Linked DNA regions of Homo sapiens. The protein of the gene in region 1 interacts with the protein of each later gene in a pairwise test. Each region holds a gene or a part of one and is shown in the gene's direction. Other genes may lie near its edges. The genes, in order: TXLNA, TTC33, BRMS1L and RINT1.

Region 1 (8,208 bases):
TTGCAAACCCTGGGTGTTACTAAATTTTAACAGCTTGGTCTCTGGGGGTACAGAGGGGACAAATGCACATTAATCTGAAATCTGGAAGAATAGGCCTTAGGAGATCCGACTTGCTTCAGAATGGCACTTAGCACTTACATGTGTGCATGTGTGCCTGCATTTTTTCTTCCTTTTTTTTTTTTTGGGGACGGAGTCTTGCTCTGTGGCCCATCGCCCAGGCTGGAGTGCAGTGGCGCGATCATAGCTCACCACAACCTCCGCCTCCCAGGTTCAAATGACTCCTCTGCCTCAGCCTCCCAAGCAGCTGGGACCACAGGTGCACACCATCACGCCGGCTAATTTTTGTATTTTAGTAGAAACGGGGTTTCACCATATTGGCCAGGCTGGTCTCAAACTCCTGACCTCGTGATCCGCCCACCTCAGCCTCCCAAAGTGCTGGGATTACAGGCGTGAGCCACCGCGCCTGCCATGTGCCTGCATTTTTCTAGGGGGAGAATCTCACTTGATGTCACCTGATATACAGAGGGGCCCATTGGAACCCGCATTGCACAACATCCTGGAGTCTGGCTACTCCACGCTTTGGGAGCAGGGAGGGCTGTTGGCAGAGACCATCTGTGGACTAGCTGGGGGACCCTTGTGAGGTAGCAGTGGATGATGGCTCTCGGGCTGACTTCTTTGCCCAGGAAGAAGGTGTGCAGCGGGCCCGGGAGGAGGAGGAGAAGCGCAAGGAGGTGACCTCGCACTTCCAGGTGACACTGAATGACATTCAGCTGCAGATGGAACAGCACAATGAGCGCAACTCCAAGCTGCGCCAAGAGAACATGGAGCTGGCTGAGAGGCTCAAGAAGCTGATTGAGCAGTATGAGCTGCGCGAGGAGGTAAGGGTATCACGGACAGCAGTCATGGCCCAGAAATTGTGAGGTTTTGAGTGTGTGCTAGGCACTGGGACAGTACCTTTTCAGGCTTCATCCCATTCTCCCTTTCTTCCTCCTCCTCCTCCTTGGGAGGAGAGTAATGTTATTCCTCATAGATAAAAAACAGGTGTGGAGAAGAGACTCACTTACAGCCACACAGCCCCAGGTCCACAGTGCCTTGTCCCAAATGACTGGGCCAGGCATCTTTTGGAATTAGAACTATCCACATTTTAGAATGGAGGTACATGTATGGACTGTGTGTTATATAGCACCCTCAGCAGGGCCTTGGGGAAGCCAGACACATTAATGTATTTATGCAGTAGAACTTCCAAATACTCACCTACATTATGGGCTTACAATGATGCAGGTCAAGTCTGGCTGCCAGCTTATGACAATTTCCATTTTCAGAACTTTGTAGAATTTGGAATTGCAGGGGAGGGGTGTACCTGTGATCAGTGATGGACTCCAGAGACTGTGTCCACTGATTCCTTGCTGCTCCTGCCACTCAAAAGGCAGAATTTATCAGGCTGGGCGTGGTGGCTCATGCCTGTAATCCCAACACTTTGGGAGGCCAAAGCGGGCGGATCACCTGAGGTCAGGAGTTCAAGACCAGCCTGGCCAACATGGTGAAACCCTGTCTCTACTAAAAATACAAAAAATTAGCCAGGTGTGGTGGTGCACGGCTGTAGTCCCAGCTACTCAGGAGGCTGAGGCAGGAGAATTGCTTGAACCCAGGAGGCAGAGGTTGCAATGAGCCAAGATTGTGCTACTGCACTCTAGCCTGGGTGATATACCGAGACTCCATCTCAAAAAAAAAAAAAAAAAAAAGCAGGATGTCACTCCCTTTGTCACTGCGTTGGCTGCCACCCCAGGCACTTGAATCTTTGGATCTTCCCTGCCAGTCACCTGGCTGTTCTGGGCGCGTTCTCATCATGAGAAGGGAGACCTGCAGCCCCCTTACAGGGCTGGCAGAGGACCTGCTCTGGATTAGGCCCTTTCCTAGCCCCTGGGGTGTGGCAGTGGGTGAGACCGGGAAGATCTGCCCTCTTAGGTTCATAGGCCAAAGTGATGATCGTGTGTGCAGGACCTAGAGGGCGCTCCCCTGACCCACCCCTTTCCTTGCCATACTTCATCCTCTGGGAACAAAGCTGCTTGTTTGGTTTGAGGGGAGTTGGTTTGGTTCTTATCCCTCAGCGCTGAGACATAGAGGCTTCCTGGGCCACTACAGTGAGACACGAACTTCAAGAATCTGAATACCCCCGTTTTCTCTCCCCGCCAAGGCAAAAAAGGACTTAGTACTACCTGTGGAGAAGGAGGTGCAGGACTACCAGGCCCTGCTGCTTTGCATTTACAGCCCTCCCCAGACAGACACAGGCACCCTCATCATACCCAAACTGGACTTACCTGCTAGGCACCTTCCCTTCCCCATCCAAAAAAATGGAGTTATTTTCCCTTATTTCAGCAAGTCCAGTTGATTTTACCTTTGAAGTAGCACCTGAGTCCTTCACCTTCTCTCCATCCCTTCTCTCTCACCTGACACAGGTCTGCAGCGCTCCTCTAGTAGGCAGGACAGCCATTCCTTGGGGATGCACATGTCTAGTCTTTGCCTAGATATGGCAAGTCTTTGCCAACTGAGCTAGGCTGTTATGTTCTTAGAGGCATTGTTTTTGCCCATTCTTCCCATTTACAAGAGAATCAGGGACACAGAAGTGAGGGCTTCCAGCCCCATAGGTGATCAATCCTGGGGTCAGAGATTTGAGTGTGTTTATTGCTTGCCTTCTTGGGAGCAGATTCCATCCATAAACCATGTGCTTACCAAGGTCTGACTCACTGGGAGAGAAACGACGTGAGGTTGGAAAGCTGACCTTCCAGAGACTTGGGGCCCATGTTGTGTGGTACACATGGGAGTCCATCATATCAGATTGAGATGGGGGGCTGGGCAAAGTGCCCTGGTCTGTGGCTGTGGGGCTACCCTGAGAAAGGGAGCGCCTGACAAGCCGACTGCTCCCACCATCTTTGTTGCAGCATATCGACAAAGTCTTCAAACACAAGGACCTACAACAGCAGCTGGTGGATGCCAAGCTCCAGCAGGCCCAGGAGATGCTAAAGGAGGCAGAAGAGCGGCACCAGCGGGAGAAGGATTTTGTGAGGCTCAGGCCCCAGGGTTGGGGTGGGGGTGGGAGGAGACAGGCTGGGCTCTGGCTCAGCTCATAGCCGGGTTATATGGGAGAAGTCTGGCCAGACCAGGCACAGATTCCTTGAGTACCAGTCTGAGAGCAGGAAGCCTCAGTGGGTCTGGTGCTTGTGGCTAAAAACCAAACATAGCCCCTGGGGGCTTCTGACAGGATCTGGGGTTCTGTCTTGGAAATAGCTCCTGAAAGAGGCAGTAGAGTCCCAGAGGATGTGTGAGCTGATGAAGCAGCAAGAGACCCACCTGAAGCAACAGGTGAGAGCATATAACCTGACCCTGTGCCTTCAAGTTTCCCTCACTGGGCCCCATCCTGGGGGTAGTGAAATGGGACCCTCATTCTAGGACTGGCTGTGTCCTGGCTGCTATGACGCCTTGGTTGAGCCTTTGTTCTCTCCGGACCTGCACAGTACCTATGTGGTGGTGACCAGGTAGTTAGGTGGGCTCAGAGGACTTCATTTGTAGCTCAGAAATGTATTGCTTTTGAGGAGGTAGGAACAGAAGAGTTTGAAAATCAACATAAAGGCAAAATAAAAGTCACCCTAAGTCTCCTACTTTCCAGGCTTAGCATTTTGGATTATATCCTTCCAAATATATAGCTTTGCTTTGTTTTAAGGAAAAATAGTATCTCAATAGAATTACTGGTCAGAGAGTCAAGGACGGGTCTGAGTGTGTTGACCAGAGTGCCTCCCAGAGAAACCCAGTCTTATCTGTGGGCTGCTTTCTCCCCACAGCTTGCCCTATACACAGAGAAGTTTGAGGAGTTCCAGAACACACTTTCCAAAAGCAGCGAGGTATTCACCACATTCAAGCAGGAGATGGAAAAGGTAACTGTGGTCCAGGCCAGGCATGGCTGCTGGGGCATAAGCTGCTTCATTCAAAATTGTTGGGCCTGCCTTCAGGAAGCTCCCATCTGGGGTGTCTCAAGGGCAGGGCTGTTAGGAAGGTTCACAGCCTTTCCCCTCTTGAGGCAGTATCAGTGGTATGTATACACTCCAGGTTGTCCCAGGGAATGGGGCAGTCTTTTCTGTTTGTTTGGTTTTTTTGGGGGGTTTGTTGTTGTTGTTGTTGTTGTTGTTGTTGTTTGAGATGGAGACTCACCTATTGCCCAGGCTGGAGTGCAGTGGCATGATCTCAGCTCATTGCAGCCTTTGCCCCCCGGGTTCAAGTGATTCTCCTGCCTCAGCCTCCTGACTAGCTGGAATTACAGGCGCGTGCCACCATGCCTGGCTAATTTTTTCTTTCTTTTTTTTTTGTATTTTTAGTAGAGACGGGGTTTCACCATGTTGGCCAGGCTGGTCTCGAACTCTTGGCCTCAAGTGATCTGCCCGCCTTGGCCTCCCAAAGTGCTGGGATTATAGGCGTGAGCCACCATGCCTGGCCCCTTACCATTCCTTGTTATTGGTGGTGGACACCTCTGACTTCCTGGTGGTGAGGTGGCACAGAGGGCATTGACTGCATCCTGTAATGCCTTGCGCCTTGGGATCAATCATTCCCCACCTTGGAGACACAGGTGCAGTCCCCACCTTGGAGACACAGACCTTGGAGAGGCCAGCTCTGACCATTTCCTTCTGTCTGTCACATAACCTAGATGACTAAGAAGATCAAGAAGCTGGAGAAAGAAACCACCATGTACCGGTCCCGGTGGGAGAGCAGCAACAAGGCCCTGCTTGAGATGGCTGAGGAGGTGGGCTGTCTGTGATCTGCAGCCAGGGTGGGGGTGTGCACTTAGCGCATATCAGGCCCTTTCCTGTATGTTCTACCCATCAGTGACACAGCTAGCATGAGGTAGAGGTGAGATTTGCACACAATGTCCAAGTCCAAAGTTAATGCTGTTCTCTCCCCATGGGAGGTGGTGAGCCCAGTGGTAGGTCTCCAGTGGGAGTGAAGGGAGCAAATGGAAGAAAGGAATAAAAGAGCAGAAAAAAACGGGTGCCAGTGATGTGCCTGGTTTACATGTAAAGCAGCCCAGGTAGTTTGTGATTTCACAGCTTGTAATGTAGAAGAAAGGAACTAACGATGGAGCAGCAACTGCAAGCCAGACCTTGCTGAAAGTTTTTGGGTTTTTTTTGTCTTTTTTGCTGCTGAATGTTTTTAGGTACGTTGTTCATTGAACCTTCTCTTGAGCTCTGAGGATGGTATTAGTAGTCCTGTTTTATAGATGAGACAGGCTCAAAAGTCAAGTCCTTTGCCAAGGTCACGTGGTAGATAAATGGAGGAATACGTTATCTCCAAGCCGTGCCCCTTTTCTGCACCATGCTGCCCCACCTGACAGCCTAGTCATGGCTTCAACTAGGACTGTTTCCTAGAGGGGGCCAGCTTTGGACTCGGTCTGCTCTCAGCCTTGTTAAAGTGTTTGCCGCCAAGTGGTGATGGTAAGTGGGAGGTTGATGGGGCACGGCACTGAAGGTCTCATTTCTTTCCCTAGAAAACAGTCCGGGATAAAGAACTGGAGGGCCTGCAGGTAAAAATCCAACGGCTGGAGAAGCTGTGCCGGGCACTGCAGACAGAGCGCAATGACCTGAACAAGAGGGTACAGGACCTGAGTGCTGGTGGCCAGGGCTCCCTCACTGACAGTGGCCCTGAGAGGAGGCCAGAGGGGCCTGGGGCTCAAGCACCCAGCTCCCCCAGGGTCACAGAAGCGCCTTGCTACCCAGGAGCACCGAGCACAGAAGCATCAGGCCAGACTGGGCCTCAAGAGCCCACCTCCGCCAGGGCCTAGAGAGCCTGGTGTTGGGTCATGCTGGGAAGGGAGCGGCAGCCCAGCCAGGCCTGGCCCATAAAAGGCTCCCATGCTGAGCAGCCCATTGCTGAAGCCAGGATGTTCTGACCTGGCTGGCATCTGGCACTTGCAATTTTGGATTTTGTGGGTCAGTTTTACGTACATAGGGCATTTTGCAAGGCCTTGCAAATGCATTTATACCTGTAAGTGTACAGTGGGCTTGCATTGGGGATGGGGGTGTGTACAGATGAAGTCAGTGGCTTGTCTGTGAGCTGAAGAGTCTTGAGAGGGGCTGTCATCTGTAGCTGCCATCACAGTGAGTTGGCAGAAGTGACTTGAGCATTTCTCTGTCTGATTTGAGGCTCAGACCCCTCCCTGCCCTTCAGAGCTCAAGACAAGTAATACACCCAGGTCTTGACTGCATTTGTCTTGTGAGCAGGGCTTGCTTGGTCAGCTCAGGCCCTCCTAGCTGCTCTGGAGGCTCCTTTGATTCTCTAGACCTGGAAAAGGTGTCCCTAGGCAGAGCCCTGGCAGGGCGCTCAGAGCTGGGGATTTCCTGCCTGGAACAAGGGACCTGGAGAATGTTTTTGCGTGGGATGATGTGCTGGTCAGGAGCCCCTTGGGCATCGCTTCCCCTGCCCTTTGGTAGTGCCAGGACCAGGCCAATGATGCTTCTCAGTAGCCTTATCATTCACAGGTGCCTCTCTAGCCTGCACAAATGATTGACAAGAGATCACCCAAAGGATTATTTCTGAAGGTGTTTTTTTCTTTATTTCTTTTTCTTTTTTTTTTTTTTTCTTTTTCTTTTTTTTTTGCACATGACAGTGTTTGTATTGAGGACCTTCCAAGGAAGAGGGATGCTGTAGCAGTGGTGCCTGGGTGCCTGGCCTCCAGTGTCCCACCTCCTTCACCACCCCACTTGGCTCCTTTGCCATCTTGATGCTGAGGTTTCCTGTTTGGTGAGATCAGGTTGTTTGTGGTAAAAGAAAGGAAAGGGCTTCTGATGGCTTTGCCACAAGCTTACCTGTGGGTTTCAGTCCTGAGAGGCCACCACCAGTTCCCATCAGCACTGTCTCCATGCAGCAGTTGCTGGGTCCCATGTCCAGCTGCCTCTTTGGCTTCATGGGTTTTTCTGCTTCCTGCCCCCACCCCCACATGTGCAATCCTCAAGATTTGTCCTGATTCTATTTCCTGGCACCTCCCTGCCTGTCCTTGGGGATTCTACTTCTTCCTGTGTGGGAGCCCATAGCTGTTGTCTAACAGGTAAGAAATGAAATTGAACTATTGACTGGGCCCCAGAAATCCATAAAATGGCTGCAGACAGTTGTTTCTGTGTCCTGTTCTACCCCCACTCCAGTACATAACTACTATGTACTGTGTAGAGCCATTCTATATGCTGAATGTTCTGCTGTTGCAAACTTGCCAGGGTATTAGCCAGTGTTTGTGCCAAGCAGTTTTCTGGGACAACAGAATGACTCAGACCAAGATGGATAGGATGGTTAGGGCTTTGCTTCTTGCTGTTTTTCTTTGAAGCTAGTTCATTGTCCTGCAGGTCCCTTCATCTTCCATACCTAGCCCACTCTTTTAGCCCTTACCTTAAATCTCTCAGATAAGTTGGTTCACAAAGAATGTTAAGTACTGAATCATGTGTGACTGAGACCAGAGATGGCAAATGAATGGCACACCATTTCTCCTTCTCCTGCCCCAGGGCAGGTACCACTGATCTGCATCAGAGTTGCCTGCTATTCTCTGGTGTATCCTTCACATCTAGGTGCCCTCAAGCAGCTGTGTGAGTGTTGAGATCTCTGCCATCTCTGGCTGAGATACTGCTGTCCTGTGAAGTGTTTCCCATGACCTTTTTCTTCCCCTTTGAATCCCTCTGTCTGGAGTAGTCCTTGCCTCTTCCTGCTCCAGTAGGGCCTTTTCCCTACCCCAGCCCCTGTGCCAGGCTAAGCTGGTACAAGAGCTGCCAACCTCACAGAGTGTTTGCTAGGCGAGAGAGGTGCAGGGAAGAGGCAGAGGTATGCACCTTCCCCCTTGAAGAGAGGGGAAAGGCCTACAGTGGCCCACATAATTGCCTGACTCACACTTCAGCTACCTCTTAATGCCTGTGGAGGGACTGGAGCTGCTGGATCCCAGTGTGGTGGTGTAGGAGGCCACAGTGAGCAGGTGGCCCCAGCTGGGTTTCCCAGGTCAGGAATGTGGGCCCCAGGCAAGGTGCAGCCTTTGCTCACAGCTCCATCCATGTCTAGACCTTCAGGCCAGTCTGCAGATGAGGTTCCCTACCTTTTTCTTCTCTTCATTGACCAAATCAACCAATCACTACAGCTGCTCTGCTTCTGCTTTCCAAAGTAGCCCAGGTCCTGGGCCAGATGCAGGGGAGG
Region 2 (8,094 bases), on another chromosome or scaffold:
GGCTCACTGCAACCTCTGCTTCTTGGGTTCAAGTGATTCTCCTGCCTCAGCCTCCAAATTAGCTGGGATTACAGGCATACACCACTACACCCAGCTAATTTTTTTTTTTTTCGAGACGGAATCTTGCTCTGTCGCCCAGGCTGAAGTGCGGTGGTGCAATCTCGGCTCACTGCAACCTCTGCCTCCTGGGTTCAAGCGATTCTCATGCCTCAGCCCCCTGAGTAGCCACCACGTGGAGGGTGCCACCATGCCCAGCTAATTTTTGTATTTTTAGTAGAGACAGGGTTTCACCATTTTGGCCAGGCTGGTCTTGAACTCCTGACCTTGTGATCTGCCCACCTCCGCCTGCCAGAGTGATGGGATTACAGGCGTGAGCCACCACGCCTGGCCAAATACTGCTTTATATACCTATCTCTGTGTATTTTTTATTTATTTATTTTTTTTGAGACAGAGTCTTGCTCTCTCATCCAGGCTGGAGTGCAGTGGCACCATCTTGGCTCACTGTAACCTCTGCCTCCGGGGTTCAAACAATTTTCCTGCCTCAGCCTCCTAAGTAGCTGGGATTACAGGCACCACCACTATGTCCAACTAATTTTTTTTGTATCTTTAGTAGAGACGGGGTTTTGTCATTGAACTCCTGGTCTTGAGTGATCCATGCTTTCGCCTCGGCCTCCCAAAGAGTTGGATTTACAGGCGTGAGCCATCATGTATCTGTCTTCTTTATGACTTCTCTAAAGGGCCTATTAGATTGTAAATCTGTAGATTATGTGCAATCTTTTTTTTTTTTGAGACGGAGTTTCGCTCTTGTTGCCCAGGCTGGAGCATAATTGTGCGATCTTGGCTCACTGCAACCTCCGCCTCCCGAGTTCAAGCGATTCTCCTGCCTCAGCCTCACGAGTAGCTGGGATTACAGGCGTGCACCACCACACCTGGCTAATTTTTTGTATTTTTAGTAGAGACGGGTTTTCACCATGGCCAGGCTGGTCTTGAACTTCTGACCTCAGGTGATCCGCCTGCCTTGACCTCCCAGAGTGCTGGGATTACAGGCGTGAGCCATGGTGCCTGGCCGATTAAGTGCAATCTTAAAACTAATCTGTTTGCATGAGAATCTTCTATCCAGAGACTAAGTATACTCAGAGAAAACAACATATAATAGATTTAGACCAATGATTCTCACTTGGAGGGCAGTTTTACCCCCAGAGAACATTTGCCATGTCTAGAGACATTTTTGTTTATCACAACTAGGAAAGGAAGCTGTATTGGATTTAGTGAGTGTAGGTCAGGGATGTTGCTGAATATTCTACATTATAGAGGACAGCCCTTCCAAAATAAAGAATTACTCAGCCAAATATGTCAGTAGTGCTGAGGTTGACCTTTATCCAGACTGTAGTGGAGTTCTTGTGACTAAGCAGTATAATATAATGAATAAGAGAATGGACTCTGAAGCCAGACTGCCTGAATTTGCATCCCAGCTCTGCCAATTCCCAGCTGATACCTTTGGTTTCTACTCTTTCTGTGCTTCTCTAAAATAGTACTGAAAACAATAACCATACCTACTTCATATGATTATTGTGAGGATAGATGAGTTAATACATGTAAATCTTTTTTTTTTTTTTTTTTGAGATGGAGTTTTGCTCTTTTTGCCCAGGCTGGAGTGCAATGGCGTGATCTCAACTCACTGCAACCTCTGTCTCCCGGGTTCAAGCGATTCTCCTGCCTCACCCTCCTGGGTAGCTGGGATTACAGGCACCCGCCATCATGCCTGGCTAATTTTTGTATTTTTAGTAGAGACAGGGTTTCACTGTGTTGGCCAGGCTGGTCTTGAACTCCTGACCTCAGGTGATCCGCCCACCTCAGCCTCCCAAAGTGCTGGGATTACAGGTATGAGCCACCGTGCCCAGCCAAATACATGTAAATCTTTAGTGCCTAGAATGTAGTAAACAGTCAATAAATGTTAACATTGTTAGGATCTAAACTGTTAACTTCAAAGATATCCACTCCTGGTACCTTTGTGATTGTGGGTTAGCCCAGGAAATCCCCAAATGTACATACTTACTGGTCTACTGAAGCTGAGAATATATTTGCTTTATCTTTAGCCCTATTATGAGTACTCCCATTTTAATGGCTTTTAGTCCATAAGCATATTGTCAGTCACTTTCTTTCACACTTCTATAATTTTTTTCCCCAGTGTTTAGGGCAACACCGTAGCTTCCATCTTTTGTGTTCTAGTACATTAAGATAATGCATTAGGATGTGTATGTGTACAGTATATATGTACGTAAACACACAGGATTGTATTAAACATACTAATTTTTAAAACCAAAACAAAAAACTCTGACCTTATTTTCTAGGCAATTCGAAGTTTTCAAGTAGCCCTTCACATCTATCCAATGAACCCTGAAATATGGAAAGAAGACCTCTCTTGGGCAAGAACGCTCCAGGAGCAGCAGAAGGTAGCACAGAGGATTAAAAAAAGTGAAGCACCAGCTGAAGTAACACACTTTTCACCAAAGTCAATTCCAGACTATGACTTTGAAAGTGATGAGATTGTTGCTGTTTGTGCAGCTATTGCTGAGAAAGAGAAGACAGTTTCAGCAAATAAAACAATGGTTATTGTGTCTGCTTCTGGGGCCATAGAGACTGTAACTGAAAAGGAGGATGGTGCTACACCACCAGATGGCTCTGTTTTTATCAAAGCCCGATGAAGCAGTATGCATAGGATTATTTGAATCTGTCTTTTTGATTGCCTCTTGAAGTTTTGACATAGAGACATTTACTCTGGAGATAGATAGGAGAACGCCTGGTTGTAAAATATGTTTTTCAGATGAGGCATATAAAAACTAAAATGGCAGGATTATTGTATAGTGTTTGGAATATGCTTTGATAAGTTATGATTTATATTTCTCAAGGTTAAAATTCTGAGTAAAATGGTCTTTGATTAATAAACTTAGTTTAATCTGAATATGTAAATGAATACATTTTAAAGACAAAACTTGAAAAATGTATTCTTGAATAGTGAATAATTTGATCAATGTTACTGAAATGCTGTCTCAACTTTTGTTTTATGATAAAGGAAGTGTGTGATTTCCCTCCCTCTGAGAAATATACTGCGCTTAATATTTGCTGTCTTTTTCTTGCTTCATTAGAGTAAGTCTGTCAGAAAGCTTGAATATTTTTGACATTCATTTTGATTCAAAGTTGTCATTTGGTTATATGTGGAATCTTTGAAAGTTTGGCTGAAAATGCACACAAATGTGTACATTCTGAACATTTTCTGAAGTTTCTCTTAATTCTGATTTGTGTTTCTGTTTTGACTTTGAAGTTGTAACAATGATAGTTGTCTCCTTCAGTATTTGGTAAAAGTGTAAAGTATTGATAAATATGAGAATGATGGTTTTATTTTTTAATTGTTACAGTAAGTAATCCTTACCACAAATGAGTCATTTTTAAAATATGCATTTTTAAATGAATGGCTTTTACAGATAGGTTAATGACAATTGTACTGCTATATTATCCCAGTCAAAACCAATACTTTCTTTTCTTTATTTTACAAAGCTTTAAAAACCCTGGAAACAACTTACTTCTTGCTTGTGTCTTTCCATTTGATGACTGGGAATTACTTTTCTAGATAACTTTTTTTGAAACTACTCAGTGAAATGAAAAATAATTACAATTTTAAATAGCTAATTATATCTTTCTAAAAATAAAAAAGTAGGGCTGTTATTAGAGTGCCAATGAATAAATAACTTAAGCACAAAATACATAGAAATTGGAATGTGATTTATAGTACAATCTCATGAGTATGAAAAGGCTATATTAAAAAAAATTTTATTGAAAGTCCACAGTCATATTCACAAACCAATACTGTCATTGCTAATCTGAACTATTATTTTTATACTATATATTGTAGTACAATAATATAGAACTGTTGGGTTCTGTTACTTCTGACACTCAGGAAGATACTATTGGTGTATTAATTTTATCTTTGTTAGAGATGAAAGTAGCCCACTTTATGTTAAAGATCTTACTACTGTTGGAGCTTATAAGTAATGATCTACATTTTTTATGAAGATGGTTTTTAAAACTTTTGTTTTATTGGAATGCATATCTCTTTTCAGGGTTGGAGAAATTAGCACTTGCCTTGAAAAGAATATTCTTTCCTTAAGTTATATCATCAGAAAATTAGCTCTGGTTAGAGAGGTTAGTTTCAGAGTGCTCCAAAAAATATGTTAATTATTTTATTTTGTTTAATAAAGAACATTCTCAAAACGTAAATAGGTATCTAGAGAAGTGAGTACTCAACATTTGGTATATTGTTTTGAGTAATGGATGTTTGTTTTTTGTGTAATTTGTGAATAAATAGTTTTTTTCTGCATTTTGAAGATTTTCCTATTATTTTATGTTGTTAGCTTTTGAAAAATTAGATTGATCTACTTAGTGTCTTTCTTATATGAACTTAATATATTTAAAGTACCTTGCATGGTGCCTCACACATGAAGTAATGCCAGCTATTTCAGTAAATGCTAGCTATTTCTATGAAGAACTTGAGTTAGTTTGGAGATATTTAACCTCAATTTCCTCTGATTTTAAAAAAGGAGAACTTTTTTTGTAATCCTTTCCTTATCTGAAAGTAAGAAGTCTCTGATTCCAGTATTATAGGAGAGATAGTGGGATTTTTCTTGACAGGGTCTATAGCTCAAGTCCCAAAGAGGCAAGACTCAGGATGGAATGCATGTGGCCACTAGGCCCTGTTATAAGAACCTAGTGTTTCCTCTGTACTGGCATGGTAGGCCAAGTTAGTCTCTTTCTTACCCAGATATAAGACATAAAATAGTTTAGACATAAGACAGAGGAGAAAAAGAAACAGTAAGTTATGGAGAAGGAAGGCAGCTCATTTCTGCAGGCCCCTCAAAATGCTTATTTTAGCTCATACTCTTCTATGCGTGAAGAGAAAAATGCACCCATTATTTTACAAGGATGTGAATACTGATATACAAACATAGACTAAGCTTGTTAATTTTAATAACAAATCTTTATGAATCTGAAGAGAATTGATGTTCATGATAATGATATAGATGTTTAATATACTTTCTGAAATAACACTGTTTACTGTTCAAGTTATATTGACTATAATTTACATTATTCTTGTTTGAGAATTGTATGGCATAGACACTCATTAGTCAGAGTGTCTAGACATCCAGACCATGCCTGATAACACAAGAATCATATATCATTCTCTAGAAAACAGGCTGTTTGGTTATAGAGTATTTATCTTAAATATATTAACAGACACTACATAAACATTGAAAAGCCATGCAAGTTATAGCTCACAGGAGCCAGATCTACTGCAACTGGGGCCTACATACAAAATTTTATGGCAGTGGTTTCAGTATGACAATCTTTTGAATTGATGCCGTATGGTAAAACTATAAAGATTTTTTAAAAGCTCTGTCTCAGCTAGAATTTTTAAGATTATAACTGAACAGTATAGCCCTTTTAGTTGTTTGAAAATTACATAATGATTCAAAAGCTTGTTTCACTGCCTTTCCCAGCACTAAGAAAATTAACAATCATTTCTTTTAATTTCCTTGAATCAGAGCCATTCTAAAGTGACTCTGGACCAGCAATTCTGAGCTATGATTTCATGATACATGTATTAATATCTAAATGAGTTGTGAGTTGACATAAGAACCATAGTTCCATAATAATTATCTTCAAATCAATGGATATCTTAAATGTGTTTTTTTCTTCCTTAGAGATTATTATTAAACTGATGTATTTGATAATAAAGAATTTTAGGACTGAGAAAGTTAAGTTTTTCTTACCAATAATAAGATATTGAAATATATAAATTATAAAACAGAAATAAAATGAAATAAAGGAGGTTATCCCTAAAGTCATTTACCTTAGTCACTTGCAATTAAATATGGTTACTTCGGAAGAAGAAGTGTGGCCCTAAAGCTACTGTAACATGAATCATGCCCTAATGTGCACTATATATGAACTACTTTGGTCAGAAGGCAGCGGCGGGTAAGGATGGCTTCCTCTCACAGTGCTTCTTAGGCTATCCATTTACCAAGGAATTCTAATCTCTTTCTCTCACTTCACCAGGAAAGGAGGGAGTTTAAGATATAGAACTGGGCATGCTAGCCTCTTTTTTCCCTTTTGTGGATTTGTCATAACTGCAGAGAACCGATGTTGTGGTCTCTTGCCAGCTACATTGTGAACCTTGCAGTGAAAGTTCTTTGCCTCTGCAAAGGGAGATTTGTGCTTGTGCAGAACTGCCCATGCCTTAGTAAGCAGGTCTGTCTAATTCTAAGTTCAATATCTGGTGGCTATTGTTGGCATAAACTTAAAGTACATCCTCTAACCTAGCCTTTTTCAGCAGTAAACTTAAAATATTGAATCTCCATCTGTCTGTGTCTCAAGTGGTTCAGAGGTCAGGAGAGGAGAGGGACATTATTTTATGACTCCCTCAAACTTTAACAAAGACTAGTGCAGATTATATTTCGAAGTAAGCATGAGATATATTAAAAACCACATGTGGGAATTCTTTCCTAATTTTAGAGGTTTTTTTTAAATAATGGAAATTCTATTGAAATTGAGTAGTGTTAATTACAAGGCAACAGGTAAACATTTGTTCAGGATATTTAAAAGGTCTGCTGAGTTGGAATTGTGACAGACCACATTGTTGACTCTAGATTGAATTGGAAGGGAAGAATGTGAAATGAATTAGGATATCCTCTGTTCACCTCTATTAACTTTCTTAAATGAGTATAACTTAGAAATAATAAAATGCAAGTATTTTAACGTTATAGTTGGGAGAGTTTTGACAAATGTAAACACCCACTTCACCACCACTACCATCCTGATATAGTGTGTGTCCATCACCCAAAAAGTTCTCTAAAGCCCTTTTGCAGTTGGTTCCCCTCCACCTGAACAGCCATCCCTAGTCAACTACTTTTCTGCTTTCTGTGGCTATACGTTAGATTTGACTTCAGAATTCTAGAGTTTGAAATAAATAGGCCATATAATATGCACTCTTTTTGTGTCTGACTTTTTTTTTGCTTAACATGATGCTTTTGAAACCCATCCATGTTGAGATTCATCCATGTTATCATGTGTATCAATAATAAGTTCCTTTTTATTGCTGAATAGTATTCTAGTATATAGATATACCACAATTTGTTTAGCTGTTCACCTATTGATGGACATTTAGGTTGTTTCAAGTTTTGATCTATTATGAATAAAGCTGCTATATATATAAATCACAATTCTATGTGTGGACATATGTGTTCATTTCTCTTATGTAAATACCTAGGGATGGAATTGCTGAGTCTTATGACCAGTTTATGCACAACTTTAAAGGAAACTGCCAAACTTTTCCAAATTATCTGTACCATTTGGGATTTCTGCTAGCAATGTATTAAATTAATTTCAGTTTCTCCATATCCTTGTCAATGATTGATATTGTCAGTCTTTTAAATTTTAGACACTTTAGTGGATATGTAGTAGTATTTCATTGTGGTTTTAATATGCATTTCCCTAATAATGTTGAGCATCTTTTCATAGGCTTATCTGACATTTCTCTTTTTTGGAAAGTAACTTTTCAAATATTTTGCCCATTTTTGATTTAAGTCATCTTCTTATTGAGTTGTAAGAGTTTTCCTTTCTACTGGATAGAAGTCCTTCATGAGCTGTAAGTATTGTGTATATTATCTTCCTATCTGCAGCTTGCTTGTTTGTTTTCTATATATATATATACATATTTTTATTATACATTAAGTTCTAGGGTACATGTGCACAATGTGCAGGTTTGTTACATATGTATACATGTACCATGTTGCTGTGCTGCACCCATTAACTCATCATTTACATTAGGTATATCTCCTAATGCTATCTCTCCCCTTTCCCCCCACCACACAACAGGCCCCAGTGTGTGATGTTCCCTGCCCTGTGTCCAAGTGTTCTCATTGCTCAATTCCCACCTATGAGTGAGAACATGTGATGTTTGGTTTTTTGGCATTGTGATAGTTTGCTGAGAATGATGGTTTCCAGCTTCATCCATGTCCCTACAAAGGACATGAACTCATC
Region 3 (8,208 bases), on another chromosome or scaffold:
CCAATATGATGAAACCCCGTCTGTACCAAAAATAGAAAAATTAGCTGGGCGTGGTCACACTTGCCTGTAATCCCAGCTACTTGGGAGGCTGAGGCAGGAGAATTGCTTGAACCTGGGAGACGGAGGTTGCAGTGAGATGAGATCATGCCACTGCACTCCAGCCTGGGCGACAGAGCAAGACTCCGTCTCAAAAAAAAAAATATATATATATATGTATATATACATATATATGTGTGTGTGTGTGTGTGTGTATATATATATATGTTTGTTGTTAGTAGGTAATGTGTGTATATATTTTTGAAGGCATAGCCTTATAATTTATAATGAAAAACAGCAGTCTTCTGTCCTATTTTTAAATTCTGTATCCCAGTGGCAATTATATTTCTAACTTGTGTATCAGTTGCTTCTGGAATTTACCCTCATATTCCTTTCTTAAAAAAAAATTTTTTTATAGAGATGGGGGTCTTGCTATATTGCCCAGCTGGTTTTGAACCCCTGGCCTCAAGTGATCCTCCTGTTTTGGCCTCCCAAAGTGCTGGAATTATAAGTGTGAGCCACTGCGCCTGGCCCTCATATTTCTAAATAAAGCAGTTTTAGACATTATCTATTGGTTTCCTATTATGGAAGCTGAGGATTTTTCTGTTTCATTCTTCTAATACTGTTGTGTTACAGTTTTTGTTTTAAATTATAAATATTGTTTACTGAGTCAAGAGTTACATTATGTTTAAAATTTTTCTTGTGTATTTTTTTAAACTTTGGAATTAATAATTGCTTCATTTATTGTTTGTTAGTTTTCTCTGTGTTTATCAATTCTTCCTACAGACCTTAGCAGATCTATGAGGGCCTCCTAATGCTGTTTTTTTTTTTAATTAAGCTAAACATGTACAGTTGTATTGATTTTTCATGAAGCCTGAGTATTCCACAAAATAAAGAGCATGTTACCTAATGGACTCAAGAAAAGTAAAAAAAAAAAAAAAAGCACTGGACCTCTCATAAGTTTTCAACTGTATGAAGATTTAAACTCCTGTCCAGTAAAGGTCAAAACTGCTTCTCGTTTTAAAGTTAGGTGTAAACAGTGTCTTCTGATGACTTCTAGAATGACCTAGAAAACCCCCTCATATTTGCTTCTTTCAGACACTGAAGTCCTAACGCTGTTTTCTCTGCGATCAAACTTATCAGATAATCCATCAGCCTCATTTTCTTCTGAAGGGCTCCCTCCTGGAAGCAACCCCTCTATCCCTCGTGTCCCCTATCCTCCTGCTCCATCTTTCATTTGGAGGCCAGCTGCATCTGTCTTCTTGGGGCATCTCTTTACCAGCAACCTGGATGTCCCCTTCACCTCTCCTCTGCTAGCATCTTATTTTCTCCTTAAGTTTGGTAGAGTGTATCTTTCAGTAGCATCCTGACAAAGGATTTCTAGAAGTTAGTTTTTTGAGATTTCTTGTATTGCTTGTCTATTGCTTTATAATTAATTACTCCAAAACTTAGTGGCTTAACACAACAATAAACATTTATTATTTTGCAGTCTCAGTGGCCAGGAATTTGGGAGCAACTTAGCTGGATGGTTCTGGCTCAGGGAATCCCAAGAAGTTGCAGTGAAGATATCAGCCAGGGATGCAGTCATCTCAAGGCTTGATTGGAGGCTGGAGGATCCGCTTCTAAGGTGACTCACTCGCAGGCTGGCAAGTTGTTGCTGGTTCTTGGTGAGAAGCCTTAGAGAACCCATGTGAGAACATGGGCCTCTCCACAGGCTGATTGAGTGTCCTCATAACCTGGTACCCAGGTTCTTCCAGACTTAGTGATCCAAGATAGCAAGACAGAGGTGACTGTTTTTATGGCCTAGATTTCTGCCAGATTTTGTTCACTAGAAGTCAGTTGCTATATCTTACCCATTTTTTTTTTTTTTTTGAGATGGAGCCTTGCTTAGTCACCCAGGCTGGAGTGCAGTGGTGCAATCTCGGATCACTGCAACCTCCACCTCTTGGGTTCAAGTGATTCTCCTGCCTCAGCCTGCCGAGTAGCTGGGATTACAGGTTCCTGCACCACGCCCGGCTTATTTTTTCCTTTTTTGTAGTAGAGACTGGGTTTCACCATGTTGGCCAGGCTGGTCTTGAACTTGTGACCTCAAGTGATCCGCCAGCCTCAGCCTCCCAAAGTGCTGGGAGTATAGGCGTGAGCCACCGTGCCTGGCCCATCCTACCCGTATTCAAGAAAGAGTATTAGTCTCTACCATTTGAAATTAGGAGTATCAAAGGATTATTGGACATGTTTTAAAACCACCACATCTTTCCTGTCTGAAAACATCTTGACGCTCACACTTAAGAGTATGGAATTCTAGATAGAAATCATGTTTCCTCAGAATTTTGAAGGCATTGTTCCATTATCTTCTAGCTTCCAGCGTTGCTTTTGTAAAGTCTCTTACCATTTTGATTCCTGATCCTTTGTACATGACCTGTTTTCTTCCTGAATACTTTTAGGATCTTCTCTTTATTCTTGTCTTGGTATTGTGGGATTGTGAGATGATGTGCTTTGATGTGGTCTTTTTTCGTTCATTGTGCTGGATACCCAGAGGAACTTTTGATTTTATGTATTTATTTATTTGAATTTTTTTTTAAAGAGACAGAGTCTCGCTCTATTGCCCAGGCTTGAGTACAGTGGTGCAATCATAGCTCATTGCAGCCTCCAACTCCTGGGCTCAAGTAATCCTCCTGCCTCAGTTGCCTGAGTAGCTGGGACTACAGGCCCACGCTGCCATGCTTAGCTAATTTTAAAAAATATTTTGTAGAGATGGGGTCTCACTGTGTTGCCTAAGCTGGTCTCAAACTCCTGGGCTCAAGTGATCCTCCTGCCTCCGTATCCCAAAGTGCTGGAATATAGGTGTGTGCCATTGTGCCTGACCAGATGAACTGTTTAATAAAAAAATTCGTATCTTCAGTTCTGGGAAATTTCTTATATATTGTTTCTTTAATATTTTCTTTTAGCTTTCATTTTATAAATTTAATCCTTTAGTCCATTTACTTTTATGTGTAATGTAAATTGTATAATGTAAAGCAAAAAATATTCAGGATATAGTTAAAATCATTTTTCTTTTTTTTTGAGACAGAGTCTTGCTCTGTCACCCAGGCTGTAGTGTAGTGGCATGATCTCGGCTTACTGCAACCTCCACCTTCTGGGCTCAAGCGATTCTAGTGCCTCAGCCTCCTGAGTAGCTGGGATTACAGGTGTCTACCACCATGTCTGGATAATTTTTTTGTATTTCTGGTAGAGTAGACAACGAGGTTTCACCATGTTGGCCAGGCTGGTTTTGAACTCCTGACCTCAAGTGATCCACCTGCCTCAGCCTCCCAAAGTGCTAGGATTACAGGCATGAGCCACCGTGGCTGGCCTAAACTCATTTTTCTCTTGTCATTTATTGTCAGATTCCCAGATGATTTAAAAAGTCACCTTTGTCATTTCCGCATAGCCAGAGTCTGTTTCTAAGTTTTAAAATTCTACTCTGCATTTTTTTTATTCCAGTGCAGTATGCTTAAAAAAAAAAAAAAAAAACTATTGTAGCGTTTTAATGGGTCACTCTCTGATAATAGCCTATGAAAATCTTCCAGGGCTCCAGTCCTGATAGAAGTTGAGAATTGTGAGGTATGTTAAGTCAGGGAACTGCCAAAGAGGAGTTGGTTCTGAATACAGGTCAGTGTGAGGTCGGTACAATAATGGAAGCTTGGGGCCACTTTCCTGGGGCTTTTTAAAGCTCTCCTGATGAGAAACAGCATAGGCGTCAGCCTGGGAAAGGGGTTATTAGTGAGCAGGATCAGTAAGTCTAGATGTGAAGACTAGAGGGATGTGGGATCTTGAGACCAAACCTATACTTATGAGTAGTATTTTTTTAAAAACCAAAGTAACTATTGAACATAGAAAACTCCACAGCCACCAAAGCAAGAGAGTTAGCCCCCTTCTTTTCCAGGTATCTTCTAGCTGTTCCATTAGGGCTTCATTTTCCATTCAGGGGAGGTTTTTGAGTGTCTTGAGAAGCTGGAGAAAAGGGAGAGAACTTTCCAAGAAAAAGAAAGAGAAATAAGAATGAGAATGGATTCATGGCAGTTTAAAGTATACTTCTGATATTTTTAGAGATGCCTTCAATGCTTCAAACATTTCAGTTTCATTGTGGCTTTTTAAAAAATAATAAAGAATGATTAGTGGATTTTTAAAAGAATTTCTGCTTGGCCTAATTTGTCAATAGGAAGAAAAGAGAATACACCAATTAAATGTTCATATCCTTAACAGCAAAAGGCTTATCACTCCAGCTCTGTATTTAGAGTCATCTTTGGTTGGGGAGATTGGATCTATTTATAGCTGCTACCACGGTCTTGTGGAGGGGAACTGCTCTCCCTTTTTCTCTGATATTTTCCGAGTTTTGCAGCACAATATAGATAAAGCTGGAATATTTCATAAGACTTTACTAAAGGCAAGGGAACAAGCAAAAGGAAGTAAGCAGAGAGAACAGCATGCAATGAAACCATGTTTGATATGAAATCTAGTTTTAGTTTTCAGCTTTGCTTTCTCCTTAGCACCTGGCTTGCCTCAAGTTTGTAAGCCATCTTTTCCCTGACACTCAGGAAACCCTTCAAGCATGTATAATTTCTAAATTTCAGACTCAAGAGAGAGGGCTTCATGATTGACACCAGGAATGCAGCCTACATGGGTGTGGCCTGTGTTTTCTACATGTAGTCATATCCAACTATATCCCAATAGCTTCCGCAAGACAGTCATATCTGCTATATCCAATTATCTAATATCCTTCACTAGAGGTAAACATGTGGCCATAGGTTTTTTTGTGTAATTGATCTTTATATATTATGTACATTTTATGGCTTTTTAAATTAGGGCTACAGTATTATATAATTAAAAACATGGACTAGAGCTAGTAGACCTGGGTTCTAGTCTATTTGCCAGTCTTGTATGTTGTAGCAATTCAATCTGTCTATGGTTTTGTAGAAAGATTTGGATATGATTAGTCTGTAATTTTATAATTTAGACTATAATTGAATTATTTTAAATAATCATAAAATTTGTACTTGAATCTTTCTCTTTGCCTATTTTAATATGATGCTGAGATATTAGTGAGGCATAATGACCCAATTATTATTCCTGTGAGAAAATATGATCCATTTTATAATGATATACTTTATAGGATAAGTTTTCCATGATGGTGACAGATGGGACCTACTTAAATTTAAAAGGGGCCATAGGGGTTTGCTATGAGTTTTTTATAAAGTAAATATTTACCTCTAAATGTACATCAGACATAATTTAGATGCTCTTATACAGAATGTAATTGCATGTAGTTAAATCTATATATAGATTCTATATTTTCTAGTTTTATTTCTTTCATGTATTTGACATTTCTTCTTTAGAATTTTTAATTGAATTGAAAAAGCAAACCAAAGCATCATATATTAAAGTACTTTAAGTTATTTGGTACTCTTAGTTAAGATACACCAATTTTTTTCTTTCTACTTAAGTATAATCTGTTTTTCTCCCCAGAGCGAAAAGCTGTTGCTATATGATACAGTCCAGAGTGAACTAGAGGAGAAGATAAGAAGGCTTGAAGAGGATAGGCACAGCATTGATATTACCTCAGGTAAGGAGAATGATATGATTGTGATGTTTGAGTGGCACCAGACCTTTGGTTTACTGTAGTGTCATATCGTATCTCAGTCTTCTAATATTAATATTATGTAAATGAAATGTCCCAGCAAAGGAGAAAAGGGGAAGAACTCTAAAGTGATGGTGATTATATTGTTATTGTTATTTGAATTCACACTTTAGAAAGATGTAAAAAATGGAGCACACGACAAGGGACGAAACAGAAGTATGACAGGAACCTACTGGCAGAATAGTGTCAGGGCTGGATGTGGTGCTGCACATCTATATCTACAGTCCCAGCTATGCAGGAGACTGAGGCGGAAGCATCCTTTGATCCCAGGAGTTCGAGATTGCAATTGCAGTGAGCCATGATGGCGCCACTGCACTCCAGACTGGGCAATCTTGTCTCCAAAAAAAAAAAGAATAGTATTGGAAATTAGCTATAGTATATGTTTTTCCTTGTAAGTCTTGAAAGACTGTTATGTGGAAGAAGGAATGAAAACCTTTTTGACATCATACAAGGTAGGACAAACTGATAGAAGTTATAGGGAGGTAGATTTTTGTTTCAGAAAAAGGAATAACTTATTAATGATTAGATCAGTCCAGTGTGAAATTGGCTTTTTCAGGGTGTTACAGAAAGGTTTTTTGCATTGAGTGGAAGGTCTACTAGGTTATCCTACAGTTCTTGAGTATATATTACTTTATCTGTTATAAAGTTTAGTTCTCTATAGGGTAGGCATGGTGGAGTCAGATAAGCTGAGCTCTAGTGCCAGTGCTCCCTCACCTACTAGTCTGGTGACCATGGACAGTTACTTCACTTTTCTAAATCAATCTCCTTGTCTGTAAAAGGAAAGTAATAAGAATACCTACCTCAGTGGTAGCTTTGGGGATTAGGTGAGACAATGCATGTAATATACATTTTACAAAGTGCATGACAATATGGTAATCAGTTCTTAGTCATGAAGTGCCAAATTGATTTTTGCTTTAATAAAGGCAGAGCAAAACTTAAACACGTAGTGCTCATGAAATTATGTACAGCTTAATCTATATATACCCAGCTGCCAATGAAGTTTTTTACGTTTTTACATGTAACTAAATAGCCACCATAAAATTAGAGTCTTTTTTCCTCCTTTGTTCACCAGAAACCCACTAATACTTAATCTTTATTTACCTGCCAGAGCTGTGGAATGATGAGCTTCAGTCAAGAAAAAAGAGGAAGGATCCTTTCAGTCCTGACAAAAAGAAGCCAGTTGTTGTTTCAGATATCCTTTTCCAAATTTTCTGTTTTTTTTTCCTTGATGTGCGTTTTTCCATTGTGCATGCCTTTATAACTTTTATTTGTAAACACTGACTTTATTTGCATGATCCTGTAATAAGCAAAAGATGATTTATTTATAAAACCGATTGAAGACAGAGGATATAGTGTATACTTTAGGTCAGGAGAGGTGGCAGAGGAGAAGAAATTCAATCATGATCTCAACTTTGAAAATTAATGTGACTTGTCGTTCACCAAGGGCTTTGATGTGAAACAGTCGTTTAGTATACAGTATGATTGTTTAATTCTCATGTGTACTTTTTTTTTCTTTTTGAGACAGGGTCTCACTGTGCCACCTAGGCTGGAGTGCAGTGGCACAATCATGGCTCACCTTAGCCTCAACCTCTCGGGCTCAGGTGATCCTCCCACCTTAGCCTCCCAAGTAGCTGGGACTACAGGCACGTGCCACTCGCCTGGCTAATTTTTGTATTTTTTGTAGAGATGGGGTTTTGCCGTGTTGCCCAGGCTGGTCTTGAACTCCTGGGCTTAAGCCTGCATTGGCCTCCCAAAGTGCTAGGATTGCAGGCATGAGCCACTGTGCCTAGCCTCGTATACTTTTTAAAAACATTTTTAAATGTTTCCAAAATTGGAGTGTAAATTAATACGTATATTCAGTTTCGGCATTCTCTATGGTACCATCCCTCTACCCCCATCTTTTCCCCTCCACCTTAAAAACCAGTGATTGTGTTAGTGATGTATATTACAATCAATGATATCATGGAATTAAGGGCATGTAGTTATGACATCAGAAGTACTAGACTGTATTTATGCTGGTACTAAGTGGTTTGAAGAATAATTTGAAGTCAGAATTTAGGATGCCAAAGCATTATGCTCATAAATCATCGTTCCATTTTCTGAAATGTAGTACTTTGGAAATATAATTCAAAGTGTGATATTCTTACAGCTAAATTGACCTTGACTATTCAACGTCCATATATAGTTTATATGCTACAAGATCTTGATATTCTTGAAGACTGGACAACAATTAGGAAGGTATGATTAATGAGCAGTGGAACACAAGTATGTTTTTATAGTCTACTTTTTAAGATTCTATGTTTTTTTTGTTAGTACATCAAAATATTATTGTAAATATGCTTTGCTTTTGCAACATTTTTCTAAGGCAATTTAATACTATTACAGATAGCAGTGAACTACAAGGATATTTTAAGAGTTAGAGACATGTCAGCAGTTTGATTGTATTTTTTCTATAATAATGTAACTAATAATTTATGGAAAAGTCCAAAAAACATTTA
Region 4 (8,077 bases), on another chromosome or scaffold:
CGTGCCATTGCACTCCAGTCTGGGTGACAGAGTGAGACTCTGTCTCAAATAAATAAATAAATAAATAAATAAATAAATAAATAAATAAAACAAAAGCTAAATTTTTTGAGATCTTTAATGTCTATTTTTATTCTTGACTACAAGAGTGTTAAAAAAAACCCCACATTTTTATTCTAACCTCACATTTGATTCATAGTTCACTAATTAAGTACAGAATTCCAGTTTTTGGCCAGGCGTGGTGGCTCACAACTGTAATCCAGCAATTTGGGAGGCTGAGGCGGGCAGATCACTTGAGGTCAGGAGTTTGAGACTAGACTGGCCAACATGGTGAAACCCCATCTCTACTAAAAATACAAAAATTAGCCAGGTGTGGTGGTGCACACCTGTAGTCCCAGCTACTTGGGAGGCTGAGACAGGAGAATCACTTGAACCTGGGAGGCAGAGGTTGCAGTGAGCTAAGATCTTGCCAATAAACTCCGGCCTGGGTGACAGAGTGAGACCCCGTCTCAAAATAAAAACAAACAAACAAAGTGTGGGAAGATAAATGTTGATAAATGTTCTAGGAAAAAAAAGCAAAAAACAAAACAAAACAAAGAAAAGGCCAGGCACAGTGGCTCATGCCTATAATCCCAGCACTTTGGGAGGCTGAGGTGGGCAGATCACCTGAGGTCAGGAGTTCAAGACCAGCCTGGCCAATGTGATGAAACCCCATCTCTACTAAAAATACAAAAATTAGGCGGGCATGATGGCGGGCACCTGTAATCCTGGCTACTAGGGAGGCTGAGGCAGAAGAATCACTTGAACCCCAGAGGCGGAGGTTGCAGTGAGCCAAGATCGTGCCACTGCACTCCAGCCTGGGCAACAGAACGAAACTCTGTCTCAAAGAAACAAACAAACAAATAATAAATAATAAAAGGGGCACTCACTTGTGAAAATGGGGAGGATAAAAATAAATAAATAAAATAAAAAGAGCATTCAGAGAACAAAAAATATGACAGCAGAAATTAAAAGCCTCCTGGGTTCAAGCAATTCTTGTTCCTCAGCCTACTAAGCAGCAGGGACTATAGGTGCACGTGCCACAATGGCCAGCTAATATTTTGTATTTTTAGTAGAGACCAGGTTTCACCATGTTGGCCAGGCTGGTCTCGAACTCCTGGCCTCAAGCGATCCACGTGCCTTGGCCTCCCAAAGTGTTGGGATTACAGGCGTGAGCCACTGCACTTGGCCTATCTTTCCACTCTTGAAATTTTAATTTCTGCTGTCATATTTTTTCATCTCTGAATGCTTTTCTTATTTTATTTATTTTTACCCTCCCCATTTACAAGTGAGTGCTCCTTTTATTATTCATTTATTTATCTATTTAATTATTTATGTTTGAGACAGAGTTTTGCTTTGTTGCCCAGCTGGAGTGCAGTGGTGTAATCTCGGCTCGCTGCAACCTCTGCCTGCTGGGTTCAAGAGATTCTCCTGCCTCAGCCTCCTGGGTAGCTGGGATTACAGGCTCCCACCACCAGGCCTGGCTAATTTTTGTACTTTTAGTAGAGACAGGCTTTCACCATGTTGGCCAGGCTGGTCTTGAACTCCTGACCTCAGGCAATTTGTTCTGCCTCAGCCTCCCAAAGTGCTGAGATTACAGGCAGGAGCCACCGTGCCCAGCCAATGCTCCTTTTAAATAGTATCCTTTTCTCTCATATGTGGGAGCTTAACATTAAACAAATTGAATTCAAGGAGATAGAGAGTAGAATGATTGTTACCAAAGGCTGAAAGGGTAGCAGGGAGGAAGGCATAAATTGGGGATGGTTAATGGGTCCAAAAATACAGTTAGGGGCCAGGTGCAGTGGCTCATGGCTGTAATCCTAGCACTTTGGGAGGTCAAGACAGGAGAATCGCTTGAGCTCAGGAGTAGAGCCCAGCCTGGGCAACATAGCGAGTCACTGTCTCAACAAAAAAAAGTTAGCCAGGAATGGTGGTGCCAGTCTATAGTCCTAGCTACTCAGGAGGCTGAGGTGGGTGGATCCCTTGAGCCCAGGAGTTTGAGGTTACAGTGGGTTATGGCTGCACCACTGCACTCCTGCCTGGGCAACAGAGGGAGAACTTGTCTCAAAAAACAAACAAAAAAACCAAAACCAAAACAAATGACGACAACAACAACAATAAAACAGAGTGACTACAGTTAATAATTTATTGCATATTTTAAAATAACTAAAAGAGTGGAATTGGACTGTTCCTAACACAAAGAAATGATAAATTCTCAAGATGATCAATACCCCAGTTACTCGGATTTGATAGTTACACATTGTATACCTGTATCAAAACATCACATGTCAGACGGCTGGGCAGCCATGGCGTCCTATATCGATGAACACGACTGTGAGCCGTTGGACCCTCAAGCAGGAGACTCGAACCAACATGGTGCTGGAGCTCGTAAGGTCACTTTTGAATAGGATGGACTTTGAAGACTTGGGGTTGGTAGTAGATTGGGACCACCACCTGCCTCCACCGGCTGCCAAGATTGTGGTTGAGAACCTCTCCAGGACAGTCATCAGAGGCTCTCAAGGCTGAGCTCAAGTGCCCCGTGTATCTTTTGGAATCTGAGGAGGAGACTGCCATTGAGATGCTTCCCAACACCTTTTTCATTCCAGTTGCATTCTGCCCTGGCTAAGCAAGACAAATTCCTGTCCCTTGTGCCGCCATGAGCTGCCCACTGATGACTACACTTATGAGGAACACAGACGAGATAAGGCTCGAAAACAGCAGCAGCAGCAGAACCGACTGGAGAACCTCCATGGAGCCATGTACACGTGAGGAGGCTGGGGCTGAGCGCCGGTCCTCTGTGTCTTCCCTACAAACCTTGAATCCTCATTAAAATTTCTTTACCCGTCCCCCGCCCCGCCCCAGAAAAAAAGGCCGGGCGCAGTGGCTCACACCTGTAATCCCAGCACTTTGGTACGCCAAGGCGGGCAGTTCACCCGAGGCCGGGAGTTCGAGACCAGCCTGACTAACATGGAGAAACATCGTCTCTACTAAAAATACAAAATTAGACGGGCGTGGTGGTGCATGCCTGTAATCCCAGCTACTTGGGAGGCTGAGGCAGGCGAATCGCTTGAACCTGGGAGGCGGAGGTTGCTGCGAGCAGAGATAACGCCATTGCACCCCAGCCTGAGCAAAAAAAAAACAAACACACATGTACACTATAAATATATACGATTATGTTCCCATAATAGGTAATTTAAAAAATAGTATCCTTGTTTTTTTTTTTTTTTTTAAATGAGACGGAGTCTTGCTCTGTCGTCCAGGCTAGAGTGCAGTGGTGCGGTCTCTGCTCACTGCACGCTCCACCTCCCGGGTTCACGCCATTCTCCTGCCTCAGCCTCCTGAGTAGCTGGGACTACAGGCGCCCACCACCACGCCTGGCTAATTTTTTGTATTTTTAGTAGAGACGGGGTTTCACCATGTTAGCCAGGATGGTCTCGATCTCCTGACCTCGTAATCTGCCTGCCTCGGCCTCCCAAAGTGCTGGGATTACAGGCGTGAGCCACAGCGCCCAGCCATCCTTGTTTTATGCTTGCAATAGTAATTTGTAGCTCGATTATATATCTCTGTGCACATGTATTTGATTTTTCTTCTCACCGTGTGGTTTCTTTTTCCTCTGAGGGTTGCTTTCCCCCCCCCTTGTTTGTTATGGTCTCTATGGTACTCCTTCCGTGTTAGTTTGTTTAAGAGGCTGTCAAGTCCACAGGTCCTCTACACAACCCTTGCTGCTAGGTAGCTCCCTTTCCTCCTCCCTGGTAAAAGACAGGGTTTTGGGCGAAACACATGTTAGATGCTCTGTTCTCTTCATTCAGCTCCCAGAACGCTTATAACCACCTCTACACCCTCTAGGCAGGAAATCAGAAGCTCATCTCTAGGGACTCTGACCAACGTTAAAAGAAATATCTAAAGATACTGACATTCATTGGAAACCCCCAACTAAATATTCGAACCAAATAACCCTGCACCGAAGCTCCTAGTCAACAAGCCCCCCACACTCTCAGAACATCTGGATATTGCCTAAAATATAAATTTAAATTATTCATATTGAATTTAAGGCGTTGGGAGAGGGATATCTTAAAGTTCCATCATTAAGAGCTTCAATAAAGTGGAGGGGACTTTTACCGCGGTGGAGTGAGCGAATCCCTTCTCTGGAGCTCCATAGGGGAGGGTGCCCGCTTCCTGAGTGGCCGTTCCGACCTCCGGTCAGGAGGGGGAGGAACAGAGCACGGCCGGCGGCTGCACGGGCAGGGCCTCTCTGGGCTGAGAGGAAGAAACCAGTGAGACATCGAGAGGAAGTCGCTGTGGCACTCAGTCCTACGGCCTCCGAGGCTGGGTAGTGAGTGTGTCGCTGGCCTTAGCCAGACTCCACAGGCCACGCTGGCTGCGAATGGAGCCGAGGACTCGCGCGGAGGCGAGATGCTACCAGCCGGCGAGATCGGCGCCTCTCCTGCAGCCCCGGTGAGACGGCCCTGGCGTCCCTGGGAGGGGACATTGGTGGCCCATTGAGGTGGCACAGACCTCCCGGGGGAGATAGTCCCGGTGCGGTGGCCCTGTAAGCTTGTGAAGGTGCTTCCTGCGGCTTAGATTAGAGGCCCTTGTAAGACCTCCTAGAGGAGGCGGTAGTCCCCGTGAAGTGGCTTTGGCGGCCCTGGTGAGATGACAGATTTCTCTAGGGAGGTGGCTCTAGTGAGCAGGCAAGGTAACTCCAGGTCCTGCGGAGGTGACACACACCTCCTGGGAAGGTGGCGGTGGCACCAGGACAGTGGCACTTTGAGGTACCTGATTCGGACGGCCCTGGTCGCTCAGAAAGTGGGAGAGCGTCTGGAACCTCTCTTGCCTCCAGTGGGTGCCCTTTGGGAGCCCCGTATGCTTTCCATCCACGACTTTAATCTTAATGTGCTTGTCACATCTGTTCTTCTTCTAGTGCTGCTCTGAAAGTGGTGACGAAAGGAAGAACCTCGAGGAGAAAAGTAAGCCAGCTCCAAACACCTTAGCTTTTTCTTCCCGCCCAAACTCAGCCTTCCAGGGTCTGCAATATAGAAAGGTTCTTTGCCTATCTTTTAGATGCAGTACCGTTTTCTGCACAATATGCTTATATGGTAATACTGATGACCATGATACACATATTTTTGTCTTTCTAAAATTGTAAAATATGGGATGCTTTGGAGAAGAGCACTTCCCGATCCATACCTAGTACAGGGACTAGAGTGTTTTCGCTGGAAGTCTGCCTATCATACAGTACTCAGAATAATTGGGGCCTGCCTGTCATTTTAATGAAACATCAACTTACTAAGCATCAGGAATTTGGAGGGGCCCATGATCTAGGACAGACGACCACCACCCTAATTGGGTTCAAAGGAGGCAAATGACAGTTGTTTAGTTCACCTTCAGTAAATTGGCAATTTAAAATTGCTCTGGCAAGAGCACAACGGATAACTTGGGTTCTGGATCTTGGACTGGACAGGAAAGGGGGAAAAGGTCAGTACCACCATTTCCTCCCTAGTACGGGAGTATATGTCAGGGTTGTGGACTTTTGCCATTTTACTTTGATGGCAGGTTATTGCAAATCAAGGGCTCTTTAGGGACCTTTGAAGTGACATTTTTTGGGAGAGGAAGGGGAAAAGCATGTGATAGCTCTGCTATTGGGATTTTTGGTTCTTTTGACTGTGGCAAACAGTTGGGAATGTGTAGCAGTAAGAAAAACGGTGCCCACATTAGCACATGGCCCTTAGGAGTAAGATTTGCCCTTAACATTAGCGGCTGATAGAATCTGCCTCAGAAAGAAGGCTCTGAGCAGTCCATAGCACATGACTGTCATAACTGCCACATCTCAGCTCCTTTTTCTTGAAGGATTTCAGAGTGCCTTGTATCTCTCAGTTAAACCCTTCCCTTTCCATTTTCCACCTTTGCCTCATTCAGATGCCTGGAAAGTAGTCTGATGCCTACTGAGCTGTCATTTTAATAAAATAATAGATGTAGACTATCATATCAAGGACTTTGACCTTGTTCCTCTTTCCACAGCTCAAACTGCTTTGCAGTTAGGAGTGCTCTTTACAAAAAATAGAAAAGGAGACACATAAAAACCTCCCAAACCACCGGTGTGTCATTTTGAAGAATGTCATTTCACTAAGAATGTACTATGCCACATTTGAATGGTTACACATCAAGGGTGTAATTTTTTTTTTTTTTGAGACTTAGTCTCACTCTGTCTCTCAGGCTGGAGTGCAGTGGCGCGATCTCGCCTTACTGCAAGCTCCGCCTCTGAGTTCAAGTAATTCCCCTGCCTCGGCCTCCTCAGTAGCTGGGATTACTGGTGCCCGCCAAACACCCGGCTAATTTTTGTATTTTTAGTAGAGGCAGGGTTTCACCATTTTGGTTAGGCTGGTCTTGAACTCCTGACCTCAGGCAATCCACCGTCCTCGGCCTTCCAAAGTGCTGGGATTATAGGCATGAGCCACTGTGCTCAGTGGGTGTAATTTTTTTTAAAAAATGAAGGTAGAATTTCCTCCCTAAGATACAGCAACTTTAGCATTCACAAAACATTTCCTGCCTCCATTTATCTGCAGATACACCACACAAATCACTTGTTTTATTTAAGATTTAAAAAAGGCATTGTGAGTTCTGTACATAATAGTAGATTATTATACGTTAATATTATATATAATTATATAGTATAATTAATATATAATTTGTATTATATAGTCCCATTTATAACCTTGAGATATAGGCTGGGGCAAATGTTACAATTTGTTTTCTAGTTGGAAAATTGAGGCATAGTGTTATGTTAATATTGCCTCTCCTACCCTCTAAATTGTCAATTTAAAATTGCTCTGGGAAGGCACAATGTATAGCTTGGGTTCTGGATCTTGCACTGAACAGGAAAGGGGGAAAAGGTCAGTACCACCTCCTGATTCTCACAGCATGTGAAAAATCTTTTAATTTAATTCATATAAGTTAAGTAGAACAAAGGAAATTTTGTTTGTTGGGGTGTAGGGGTGGAGACAGGAACATACTCTGTATAAAACATTGGTATATATTCTGTTAATCTTTACATAAATAGTTGACCAATATCTGACATTTACATTTTGCACTTAGGCATATCATTATTTAGATATTAATATTAATAAGCCTAATGTGTATTGGACTTATTAAATGTCACAAAACAGGTAGTTTATTTGCCATGGAAAGAATCTCACTTTATACTATTTAGTGGTTGCATTTGTCATTTTGATTTTTTCCTAGTAATTTGTTCTCTCATATTTTCTTTTTTCTGTTTCTGACAAAGATATCTTTGTACAATGACATCGATGACATTTGAAGCTTAAAAACCTTTTTTTTTTTTTTTTTTGAGGCAGAGTCTCACTCTGTTGCCCAGGCTGGAGTGCAGTGGCGTGATCTCGGCTCACTGCAACCTCCGCCTCCCGGGTTCAAGCGATTCTTCTGCCTCAGCCTCCCGAGTAGCTGGGACTATAAGCGTGCACCGCCATGCCCAGCTAATTTTTGTATTTTTAGTAGAGACAGGTTTTCACCATATTGGCCAGGCTGGTCTCGAACTCCTGACCTTGTGATCTGCCTGCCTCAACCTCCCAAAGTGCTGAGATTACAGGCCTGAGCCACCTCGCCCAGCCAAACCTTTTTTACTTTTTTGTTTGTTTGTTTGTTTGTTTTTAAGAGATGAGGTCTTGCTCTGCTGTCCAGGCTGGAATGTAGTAGTGAGATCATGGCTCACTGCAGCCTCCATCTCCCAGGCTGCTCAAGCAATCCTCCCACCTCAGCCCACCTGAGACTACAGGTGTGTTCCACCATTCCTGGCTAATTTTGTTAGATGAAGTCTTGCTTTGTTGCCTAGGCTGGTCTAGAACTTCTGGGCTCAAGTGATCCTCCTGCCTTGGCCTCCCACAGTGCTGGGATTACAGGTGTGAGCCCCTGCGCCCGGTCTTTTTAAAAACACTTTAAAACAAGAGTCTTCTTTTGGTGTTGCCCTAGACCATACTACTGGTTCCTTACACATTTTGAAAAGGTATTATTCCTTGTCTATTGAAAC

Evidence for each region.
Region 2: the proteins of TXLNA (region 1) and TTC33 interact in binary tests that used the Homo sapiens proteins (3 or more experiments, as listed by UniProt).
Region 3: the proteins of TXLNA (region 1) and BRMS1L interact in binary tests that used the Homo sapiens proteins (3 or more experiments, as listed by UniProt).
Region 4: the proteins of TXLNA (region 1) and RINT1 interact in binary tests that used the Homo sapiens proteins (3 or more experiments, as listed by UniProt).

What each region holds. Positions count from the first base shown.
Region 1 is NC_000001.11:32,189,372-32,197,579, forward strand, and holds part of TXLNA (alpha-taxilin), read left to right. Parts: intron 1-683; coding exon 684-878; intron 879-2,939; coding exon 2,940-3,059; intron 3,060-3,285; coding exon 3,286-3,360; intron 3,361-3,836; coding exon 3,837-3,929; intron 3,930-4,693; coding exon 4,694-4,789; intron 4,790-5,530; coding exon 5,531-5,824; 3' UTR 5,825-8,208. UniProt on the Homo sapiens protein: May be involved in intracellular vesicle traffic and potentially in calcium-dependent exocytosis in neuroendocrine cells.
Region 2 is NC_000005.10:40,710,756-40,718,849, reverse strand, and holds the end of TTC33 (tetratricopeptide repeat protein 33), read left to right. Parts: intron 1-2,351; coding exon 2,352-2,705; 3' UTR 2,706-7,274; downstream 7,275-8,094.
Region 3 is NC_000014.9:35,857,052-35,865,259, forward strand, and holds part of BRMS1L (breast cancer metastasis-suppressor 1-like protein), read left to right. Parts: intron 1-5,538; coding exon 5,539-5,635; intron 5,636-6,818; coding exon 6,819-6,902; intron 6,903-7,883; coding exon 7,884-7,948; intron 7,949-8,208. UniProt on the Homo sapiens protein: Involved in the histone deacetylase (HDAC1)-dependent transcriptional repression activity. When overexpressed in lung cancer cell line that lacks p53/TP53 expression, inhibits cell growth.
Region 4 is NC_000007.14:105,527,867-105,535,943, forward strand, and holds the start of RINT1 (RAD50-interacting protein 1), read left to right. Parts: upstream 1-4,334; 5' UTR 4,335-4,449; coding exon 4,450-4,491; intron 4,492-4,957; coding exon 4,958-5,003; intron 5,004-8,077. UniProt on the Homo sapiens protein: Involved in regulation of membrane traffic between the Golgi and the endoplasmic reticulum (ER); the function is proposed to depend on its association in the NRZ complex which is believed to play a role in SNARE assembly at the ER.